2 separate regions of the Homo sapiens genome follow, and region 2 is linked to region 1. Evidence: fine-mapped expression QTL. Tissue or cell type: whole blood. Region 1 holds a variant in brackets; the other region holds the start of a gene. All regions are shown on one strand. Distances are from middle to middle.

Region 1 (5,188 bases):
GTCCGCCTTGCCCACAGGGCCTAGCAAGAGCAGAGAGCAGACAGCAGACAGCAGTAACAACCGTTCCCAACTTACTGAGCGTTCCAGGTGTCAGACCTTGAGTGCTAAGTGTCTTAGATACATTTTTCTCATTTAACTCTCCCACAAGGCTTGTGAGAGATGTATGGCTATGCTCATTCTTTGGTCTGAGGAAACTGAAGTGCAGAGAATGGTCACATCGCCCACAGGCACAGAGTTGAGATAGAAAGAGAGACAGAGAGAAAGAGAGAGGGAGGGATTCAGATGTGGCCAGGCACAGTGGCTCACACCTGTAATACCAGCACTTTGGGAGGCTGAAGCAGGCAGATTGCTTGAGATTAGGAGTTCGAGACCAGCCTGGGCAATGTGACGAAAGTCCATCTCTACAAAAAATACAAAAATTAGCCAGCCATGGTCCCCGCTACCCAGGAGGCTGAAGCAGGAGGATAGCTTGAGCCTGGGAAGTGGAGGTTGCAATGAGTCGAGATCATACCACTGCACTCCAGCCTGAGCAACAGAGTAAGACCCTGTCTTTTTTTTTTTTTTGAGACGGAGTCCCGCTCTGTACCCCAGGCTGGAGTGCAGTGGCACCATCTCGGCTCACTGCAAGCTCTGCCTCCTGGGTTCACGCCATTCTCCTGCCTCAGCCTCCTGAGTGGCTGGGACTACAGGTGCCCGCCACCACGCCCGGCCAATTAGTTTTTGTATTTTTAGTAAAGACAGGGTTTCACCGTGTTAGCCAGGATGACCTCGATCTCCTGACTTCGTGATCCACCCGCCTCGGGCTCTGAAAGTGCTGGGATTACAGGCGTGAGCCACCGCGCCTGGCCATGAGACCCCATCTTAAAAGAAATAGAGTCAGATGTATCTCACTCCAAAGGCTCTTGCCTTCAACCATTCTGTCACTCAAGGTTCAATAGATGTTTGTTGAATGACTGAATGAGCTCCCTTTGTTGGGACAGTTACAGGACCTGTTGATCTTACCTTCAGAAGGTCTTTGAGAGTCCAGACTCTGGTGTAGCCCCCAAGCTAACCTTCCTGAAGTTTCAATTACTGAGGCATCTGTCTTGAAATCTGGGATGATGCCCAATTGCTTTCTACATACAACCTTTATACTAGTAATAATAAGTAACATTTATATATTACTTCATGGTTTATAAGGACTTTTTCTTAGCGAGTGCCAACCATATGCTCCAAGCCTGGTATTAGAGATAATAAGCTTAAAAAGACTGAGGCTGGCTGGGTGCAGTGGCTCACACATGTAATCCCAGCACTTTGGGAGGCCGAGGTGGGTGGATCACTTGAGGTCGGTAGTTCGAGACCAACCTGGCCAACATGGTGAAACCTTGTCTCTACTAAAAATACAAAAATTAGCCAAGCGTGGTGGCACATTCCTGTAGCCCCTGCTACTCAGGAGGTTGAGGTGGGAGAATCGCTTGAACCTGGGAGTCAGAGGCTGCAGTGAGCTGAGATCGTACCACTGCACTTCAGACTGGGCAACAGACCGAGACTCCCTCTCAAAAAAAAAAAAAAGACTGAGGCCAGGTGTGGTGGCTCATGCCTGTAATCCCAGCACTTTGGGAGGCCAAGGCGGGTGGATCACTTGAGCCCAGGAGTTTGAGACCAGCCTGAACAACATGGCGAAACCTCATCTCGATAAAAAATACAAAAAATTAGCTGGGCATGGTGGCATGCGCCTGTAGTCCCAGCTACTTGTGGGGCTGAGACAGGAGGATTGCTCGAGCCTAGGAGGTGGAGGTTGAAGTGAGCTGAGATGGTACCACTAAACTCCAGCCTGGCCAACAGAGCAAGAGACCCTGTCTCAAAAAAAAAAAAAAAAAAAAGGCCGAGCGCAGTGGCTCACGCCTGTAATCCCAGCATTTTGGGAGGCTGAGGTGGGCGGATCATGAAGTCAGGAGATTGAGACCATTCTGGCTAACATGGTGAAACCCCGTCTCTACTAAAAAATACAAAAAAATTAGCGAGGCGTGGTGGAGGGCGCCTGTAGTCCCAGCTACTCGCTGAGGCAGGAGAATGGCATGAACCCGGGAGGCGGAGCTTGCAGTGAGCCAAGATTGCGCCACTGCACTCCATCCTGGGCGACAGAACAAGATTCTGTCTCAAAAAAAAAAAAAAAAAAAAGCGCAAAAAAAAAAAACAAAAAAAGACTATTGGCCGGGCGTGGTGGCTCACACCTGGAATCCCAGAACTTTGGGAGACCAAGGCGGGCAGATCACAAGGTCAGGAGTTCGTGACCAGCCTAGCCAGCATGGTGAAACCCCGTCTCTACTAAAAATACAAAACATTAGCTGGGCCTGGTGGCACGCACCTCTAGTCCCAGCTACTCAGGAGGCTGAGGCAGGAGAATTGCTTGAACCTGGCAGGCAGAAGTTGCAGTGAGCTGAGATCGTGCCATTGCACTCCAGCCTGGGCAACATAGCAAGACTCTGTCTCAAAAAAAAAAAAAAAGAAAAAGAAAAAGAAAGAAAGACAGGGTTGAGCACAACAGCCAGGGCTCAAGACAACGTGGGGCTGCTGGGGACCAGAGACACAGAGGCTCCAGGAAGGACCCCATTCCCCACCCACCCCAACAATTCTTCAGTCGGCAGAGACCTTCTTGTTCTGCTATCTAGCCCTCACTGCAGACCAGTGAGACAGGGGCTACAGCTACAGGCTGGAGTGCAGTGGCATGATCTCAGCTCACTGCAACCTTTGCTTCAGGCTGTGTCTCTGGTCCCCAGCAGCCCCACATTGTCTTGAGCCCTGGCTGTTGTGCTCAACCCTGTCTTTCTTTCTTTCTTTTTCTTTTTCTTTTTTTTTTTTTTTTTGAGACAGAGTCTCGCTATGTTGCCCAGGCTGGAGTGCAACGGCGTGATCTTGGCTCACTGCAACCTCCGCCTCACGGGTTCAAGCAATTCTCCTGCCTCAGCCTCTCAAGTAGCTGGCATTACAGGCATG[T/G]GCCACCACACCCAGCTAATTTTTTGTATTTTTAGTAGAGACGGGGTTTCACCATGCTGGCCAGGCTGGTCTCGAACTCCTGACCTCATGATCCGCCCACCTCGGCTTCTCAAAGTGCTGTGATTACAGGCGTGAGCCTGGCCAACCCTGTCTTTCTTTTGAGGCAGAAGGAGATTCTGGTGCATGTCCTGCAGTACATTCAGTACCTCCAGAGAAACATCGATGCCGCCAAGGCCTTGTTCAAATGCCACATCACCACTGGGGAAGGTGGACTTGCGGGTAAGTAGTTCAGCCAGTGTTTCCTGGTGCCTGTGATGTTCCAAGTGTTGTTCCAGCCATCAGGGATACTGAGTGACCCTTCTGTCAAGGCCTGGTATAGGGGACAAAGAGAGATATGCAAGATGCCTCAGAGAAGAGGGGCCTTGGAGCTGGGCCTTCAGGACTGTAGGAGATGCAGGGAAGCCCAGCCAGGCAGAAGAAACAGGCCGGGCACAGTGGCTGATGCCTGTACTCCCGGCACTTTGGGAGGCCGAGGCGGGCGGATCGCTTGAGGTCAGGAGTTCGAGACCAGCCTGGCCAACATGGCAAAACCCCGTCTCTACTAAAAATACAAAAATTAGCTGGTGTGGTGGCTGGCGCCTGTAATCCCAGCTACTTGGGAGGTTGAGGCAGGAGAATCACTTGAACCTGGGAGGCGGAGGTTGCTGTGAGCCGAGATCACGCCACTGCACCCTAGCCTGGGCAACAGAGCAAGACTGTGTCTCAAATAATAATAATAATAATAATAATAATAATAATAATAATATATACATAAAATAAAATAAATCTGATCATGACCTTCCCCTGGCATAAAATCCCTCAGTAATTTTCATCTTCTTCACTTCCCTCCATAGCCAGGTGCTGGAAACCATTTGGGATCTCATCCCTGCCTTCCTAGTCCCTGCCAAACCTCCCCAGCCTCATCTCCTACCATTCTGCCAGCGTATTTTATTTATTTATTTGTGCTTTTTGTTTTGTTTTGTTTTTTGTTTTTTGTGTGTTTTTTGAGACGGAGTATCACTCTGTCACCCAGGCTGGAGTGCAGTGGCGTGATCTCTGCTCACTGCGACCTCTGCCTCCCGGGCCTCTGCCAGTATATTTTACACTACAGTAACAGCGACAGCACCCAGCACATCTAGCCTTAGGGGACTGCTATGTTCCAGGTGCTGTGGTATGTTTCTTTCTTTCTTTTTTTTTTTTTGAGGCAGAGTTTAGCTCTTGTTGCGCAGGCTGGAGTGCAGTGGCGTGATCTTGGCTCACCGCAACCTCTGCCTTCCAAGTTCAAGTGATTCTCCTGCCTCAGCCTCCCGAGTAGGTAGGATTACAGGCACTCACCACCACACCCAGCTAATTTTTTTGTATTTTTAGTAGAGACGGTGTTTCACCATATTGGCCAGGCTGGTCTCAAACTCCTGACCTCAGGTGATCCACCCACCTTGGCCTCCCAAAGTGCTGGGATTACAGCTGTGAGCCCCTGCTCCTAGCCGTTTTTTTTTTTTTTTTTTTTTGAGACAAGGTCTCACTCTGTCACCCAGGCTGGAATGCAGTGGCATGATCATGGCTCACTGTAACCTCAAAATCCCAGGACTCAAAACTCCAGGGGTCAAGCAATCCTCCTGCCGCAGACTTCTAAGCAGCTTGTACTACAGGCACGTGCCACCAATATCCAGATAATTTTCTTTTTTTTGAGATGGAGTTTCTCTCTGTCGCCCAGACTAGAGTGCAGTGGCGTGATCTCAGCTCACTGCAAGCTCTGCCTCCCAGGTTCAAGCCATTCTCCTGCCTCAGCCTCCCAAGTAGCTGGGACTACAGGCGCCCGCCACCACACCCAGCTAATTTTTATATTTTTAGTAGAGACAGGATTTTGCCGTGGTCGCCAAGCTGGTATCACCTCAAGTGATCCACCCATCTCAGCCTCCTAAAGTGCTGGGATGACAGATGTGAGCCATCGTGCCTGGCTCTGGCTAATATTTTTGTTTGTTTTTTTGTAGAGACAGAGTCTCACTGTGTTGCCCAAGCTGGTCTTAAACCCCTGGGCTTAAGCAATTCTCCCGCCTTGGCCTCCCAAAGTGCTGGGATTATAGGAGTGGGCCACCAAGCCTGACTTGTTTCTATGTATTAACTCACATTTAATCGTCAGGACAAATACCGAAGGGAAAAGCTAATGTGGTCC
Region 2 (5,112 bases), 33 kb after region 1:
GGTTCTTGAACCACACTTTGGAAAACCCTGGATTTGGGGCTGGGGGAAGGAACAGGACAGGGAGACAAAGGTAGCATGGTCACATATCCCAGACTCAAGTGCTCCGGTCCAGCCCATCTCTCAGTCCTCCAGGAGGAGTGCTTTAGTCCTACCCCTTATTTACAGATGACAATCAGGCCTCTCAGAAGTCAAGGTCCTATGACTAGGAATGTTAAACTGGGCAGCCTGGGTGGGGGACCAGCTGGGGTGGAGGCTTGTGGCTCAGGGACTGTGGGGACAGGGAGGCCTGGACTCCCGGGGGTGGAAGAAGTGGAGGCAGGATGGAGAGAGGGATGGGTATGGGAGGGGAGGGAAGGAGAGGAGACAGTGGGTTCTGGAGGAAAGAGAGGGGTTCCGGGGGGTTCCGGGAGAGTGGGCCAGCAGGGACGAACCAGCCAGGGCTGAGGACGGGGGAGGGAGGAGAGAGCCAAGACATTGAGCCCTTTTAAGGCAGCAGGAACCCTGGCCCCCTCCCCCGCCCCAGGCCTGGCAGGGGAGGGGCCGCGAGATGCAGCTCGGGCCACAAAAGGAGTGCTCCTCCCGGGAGCGCCAGACCCCTACCCCACCCGGTCTCAGTTTACCCTGCCAACCCAACTTCATCCTCTACTAAAGGGAGGCCAGGAGAGTCATTAGGGGCTGTGGGAGGTTGGGAGAAGGTTTTTCCAGAGGCTGAATGGCCTGGCCCTTCTTGGCCTCCACCTTCCCATCTGTGAAATGGGAGGAGGAGGGAAAGGAACCAGGCCTGGGTCAGAAAGAGATGGACACAAGAGGAAGCAGGGGAAGGCGGAGAAACAGGAAACAAGTGTCACACACAGTTTGTTACACACAGGCCAAAAACCAAACACCAGTCACTGAGGGCCAGACATATGAGGGCCAGAGGGGCAGGGTGCTGGGAATGAAAGAAACCAGTGACCAGTGAGCCCGAGTCCTGGGCTTGGGGAGGAGGTGGGCAGACAAGGCAGCTGGCAGAAGCGGAAGCATCCTCCTTCCAGCCCTGGCCCCAGGCCCTGGAAAGCCCTTGCAAGAAGGGGTTTTGTGGGACAGCTGGAAGGTTGGAGGCCCTGGGCCAGGAGAACTAAAGGACGCAGGGACCCGGGGTGGCGGGAATGGTGGCTGACCCACACGGCTCATAGGAACCGAGACTTTGGGGCTGGGGGTGGGGGTGGGTGCAGAACCTACAAAAGAAGGAGACACACCCAGAAGAACCCAAAGTTGTCCCTCCTGGATCGCAGAGGAGGGGGCACTGGTGGCGCCTGTCTGCAAAGCTGGTTCTCCCACAGGGCCCGCGTGAGTCACCGCCCTCCCAGTGCCTGGGCACCTGTTGGGGCAGCTGGAGAGGCTGGCGCCGAACACCTGCCTGTCGGCTGCGCCCCTGGCAGCTGCCCCATGCTGGCCCTCCTGGCTTGCCCCAGGCCACAGGAAACCAGGGGAGAGGGCCATAGAGCCCACTTTTGGGGGGAGGGTCCTAGGAGAGGGAGCTCCCAGCATGACCCTGACCCTGACCCTGAGGCGGGGTGCAGAGAGGCCATGGGAGGCTGTTGGCAGCCTAGCCTGCTGTGACTCCTAAGCCATGGCTCTGAGTCACAGCCACCCTAGCCTCTGCTGACCTTACTCTGCCCCTCCAGAGTGGTGGCATAGGACAGAGAAATGTTGCCCCAGGGCCCAGGTCCACACTCTGAGCCCCAGGATGGGAGGATCTCCCCATGCCCATCCTGCCATCCTGCCCCCCCAACAGCCAGGCCTCTGTGCCCAGACCTGTCTCCTGCCCCACCCCCACCCCATCTGCAGGAGCCCCGAGGGTAGGCACTCACCCCACTGCAAGAAGTCGGCCACGTACTTGTCCTGGGCCAGTTCGGAGGCGCCCAGCTCCTGGTGGACGCCCAGGAGAAGGTCGAGCAGGGGCTCCAGCCCCAGGAAGCCCGGGTCCAACACCAGCTGCTGGAGCCGCCTCAGCCGCACCTCGGCTGACATGTTGGACAGGCAGCACCATGGCCCCTCCCCGGGCCGGGGGCTCGGGGTCCTCCTGTCACAGGGCCTGGCAGCCCCTGTCCAGGCCCTGGAGCCCTGGCTGCATGTCTGCCTGTCCCTGGCTGTCCCCTGGGCCTCTCTGGCCACTTCTCTCTGCGGCCGGCCGAGGCCTCCTCCCCTTCTCCCCACCCCTTGGTCCAGCCCCCCTCCCGCCTCCCAGCCTTAACCCCTCACAAGCCAGCCCCCCAAGCTCCCTCCTTCCAGGGCCCTTCAGAACCCTTCAGTGCTAGAGTAGGGGGAATGCATGGAGAATCTCAGCTGTCACACTGTCACCCCAATAAAAAGGTAGAGCACAGAGGAAGCCACAGGTGTGATGAATTTCAAGAAGAACCTGCCCATTGCTGAAACAGGGCCAATTGAGGCTGAGTGACCCAGTAGCAACCACCCCCTTGCTCCCGACAAGCTCCAGAACTGGGGGCTAGGGGGTGAGGGCTGGGGGTTGGGGCTGGGTGGGAGAAAGGGGTTGAGGCCTGGGAAGGGGACGGGAGGCCAGGGCAGCTTCTTGGGTGACTCAGAGATGGATTCCGACTCGGACAGTTAAATTTAGCCCTCAGGCTCTCTGCTTTATACCAGCTTTTTTTTTTTTTTTTTTTTTTTTTCCCAGGAGGTGGGGAAGGGGTGGTGAGGACAGGACCAGGAGGGGGCACCCTCAGAGCCTGAACAGGGGTGACCTGCTGCCCAAAGGCTGGGGGAGGAAAGTGGTGGAGCCAAGCCCTCCCTGGGCAAACGAGACCCCAAAATAGCTCCTTGGCCCCTGGCCGGGGAGCCACATTCCTGCCCAGGCTGGGATTAGAAACAGAAACATTTCGGGGGGTGGAGGGTGGCGCGGGAAGACACACTCCCTGCGGCTCCGAGAGCCAAGAGGAATCTGAGCTCTTCTTTCCAGGGTGGACGGTTCTCCAGAGTGGAAGTCGGGGCCTCCAACCGGCCTGGGGTGCCTGGGCCTTGAGAGGGCCAGGCCTGAGAAACTAGGAGGCAAGGACCGAGGAGTCCCAGCTGGGCAGGGCCTGGGAAACGTGGTCCTGGGCAGTTCTGATAATTTAAAAAACACCGAGGACTTTGATGAGGGGCCCTGGCTGCGGGCAGGATGCTCTTCTCCCCAAGAGGGTCCTGCTCCAGCCGCTGGTGTGGGTCACCAGTTGTGTGACTCGCAGGTCCGTTCCCTCCCTGGGCTCCGGCTTTTCCTGCTATGAAAAGGGGTGGGAGGCGCTGGGCTGGGAGCAGGCCTGCACTCCTCCTCTGGGGAAAGCGGACTGCCTAGAACCACAGAGTACACACACAGGTCCTCTACATCATCTCCTCCGAAGGGGACAGACCCGCTGAGAAAACAGGGAACTTTAGTATAAATAAGAGGTCCTGCGGGACAGGGAGGAACCTGAGGGGCTTCCATAATTTAACACTCTTCAAAAGCACAGACAATAGCAAGGGCAGCTGGGGTGGGGGCCGGGCGAGGGCTGGACCACCCCCGGCCCTGCCCACTCAACTGAGGGGCACACTGCAGACCTGGGGCTCTTGTGGCAGGGGCGGGGAGTCTCTCCCCAGGAGTGACCAGTCACATGCTGGGGACAGGGATGAGGGTAACACTGATGTTTCAGAGGAAGAGGTCATTGTACTTGGCAGTGGGTGGGGGACAAGGCTGAGGCCACAAGGGCTATTACATCGCCCGTGTCCGGGCCAGTCTGGGGGGCCCCCAAATTTTGTGCAGGTGGGGGGACTGGAGCAGTCCATCCATCATGGTTAGTCTTGTTAATACGTTGATCTGTGAGGTCAGCAGGGAGGGTTATGGCTAGGAGGCTGGGGGCATGGGGTTGGGGGGGCCCGATATCCATGGCTTCACACCACTGTGCCACTCGGGGAGTTGCCTGGTTGGGAGGAGATGCCCTGGGGAAGATGAGAGGGAGAGATGGGAGGGGTTAGAGACCACCTGGGCTTCAGCCAGTGTCAAGGGGAGGGAGCCAGCCCAGAGTCCCCAAAGCTGCTGCCACCCTGGCCTTGCCCTTGGGTCCGCCCTAGACCCCCCAGAGGCCACTGCTCTAGGCTGGGAACTTGCATCTTAGCTAGCTTCCTGTCCTGGCAGTCAGCACTTTCACGCAATAATCAAAGTCCTTGGCGGATCCTGAGTGAGACCATGGGGTAAGGGTAAGGGTGGGAGGGGAGGGGGAAACTGGAGCTCCCTTCTAACTTGGGAGGGACCCTGAGGTGCTGGGGAAAGAACTCAGGGACAGTCCTACCTCTACCACTGACTTGCTGGGTGACCTGGGCCAACTTCCTTCCCCTGTCTGGGCCTCGGTCTCCTCGTCTGTGAACTACGGAGACAGAGGGGTCTCTTTTAGGACTCAACCAGACTCCCCAAATCCCACCACTCTTGCCTCTGAGTCACTCAGACTGTGCTCTCAAGTTCTAGGGACTCAGGACTCTACGATTCCAAAACTGAGGATCTGAGGAACCAAGCCACGGCCTCCAGGACCCTGGGCAACTGAGTCCAAGCCCTAAGAAGCTGAGACACCCAAGACGAGCTCCGAACTTACAAGATGCCAGGCCTGATTCGCCTACTATGACCTTCCCAACGCCACAGCCCACCCAGGAGGCAAGCACATCCACCCACTGCCCATCCTACAGGCTCTGTTCTAAGAGGTGATGAGTTGGAGGTCAGAGGGGGCAGTGACTTGTCCAGGGTCACAGAGGGAGTGGGACTGGAACCCAGGCCTGGGATTCCCAGCCTGTGCCTTCAGCAGGAGGCTCAGATCCTGAGTCCCAGACCCAGGCTGGCAGCCATGCCCACAGGCTTGAGCTCGCCCCTAGTTTTGGCCTGAAGTACTCAAAAAAGTTTCACGATTTAAAAAACAGATGTTCAACAGAAATAGATTCTGGTTCGAGTGACAGGCAGTAAGACCTGGCCATGTGGGGCCCATCTGCTGCCCTTCAGACGGCCAGCCTTGGATGCCCCAATTCCTAGCTGGCTCTCACACCCACCCCTCTTTCTGCTGCCTGCTGCCTAGGGCTAGACCCCCTCACTCTAAGGATCTGAGAGGTCTTGTACTGAGA

What was found. PIP is the estimated chance that this variant, and not a neighbour inherited with it, causes the effect.
Region 2: it holds the start of DMPK, and the variant in region 1 is fine-mapped to the expression of DMPK in whole blood (TOPMed, PIP 0.97).

What each region holds. Positions count from the first base shown.
Region 1 is chr19:45,747,532-45,752,719 of GRCh38, forward strand. It overlaps MEIOSIN (meiosis initiator), which reads left to right. Exons shown (of 15, transcript NM_001310124.2): 5 at 3,144-3,255. Among named protein-coding and RNA genes, the nearest start is that of MEIOSIN, 17 kb to the left of the region's middle. RefSeq lists an enhancer at 46-838. The variant T/G (reference allele first, on the strand shown) is at 2,977.
Region 2 is chr19:45,780,343-45,785,454 of GRCh38, forward strand. It overlaps DMPK (DM1 protein kinase), which reads right to left and starts at 2,148. Exons shown (of 15, transcript NM_004409.5): 1 at 1,851-2,148. The coding sequence starts at 2,010. It overlaps DMWD (DM1 locus, WD repeat containing), which reads right to left. Exons shown (of 5, transcript NM_004943.2): 4 at 4,299-4,373; 5 at 2,605-3,948. The coding sequence ends at 3,901.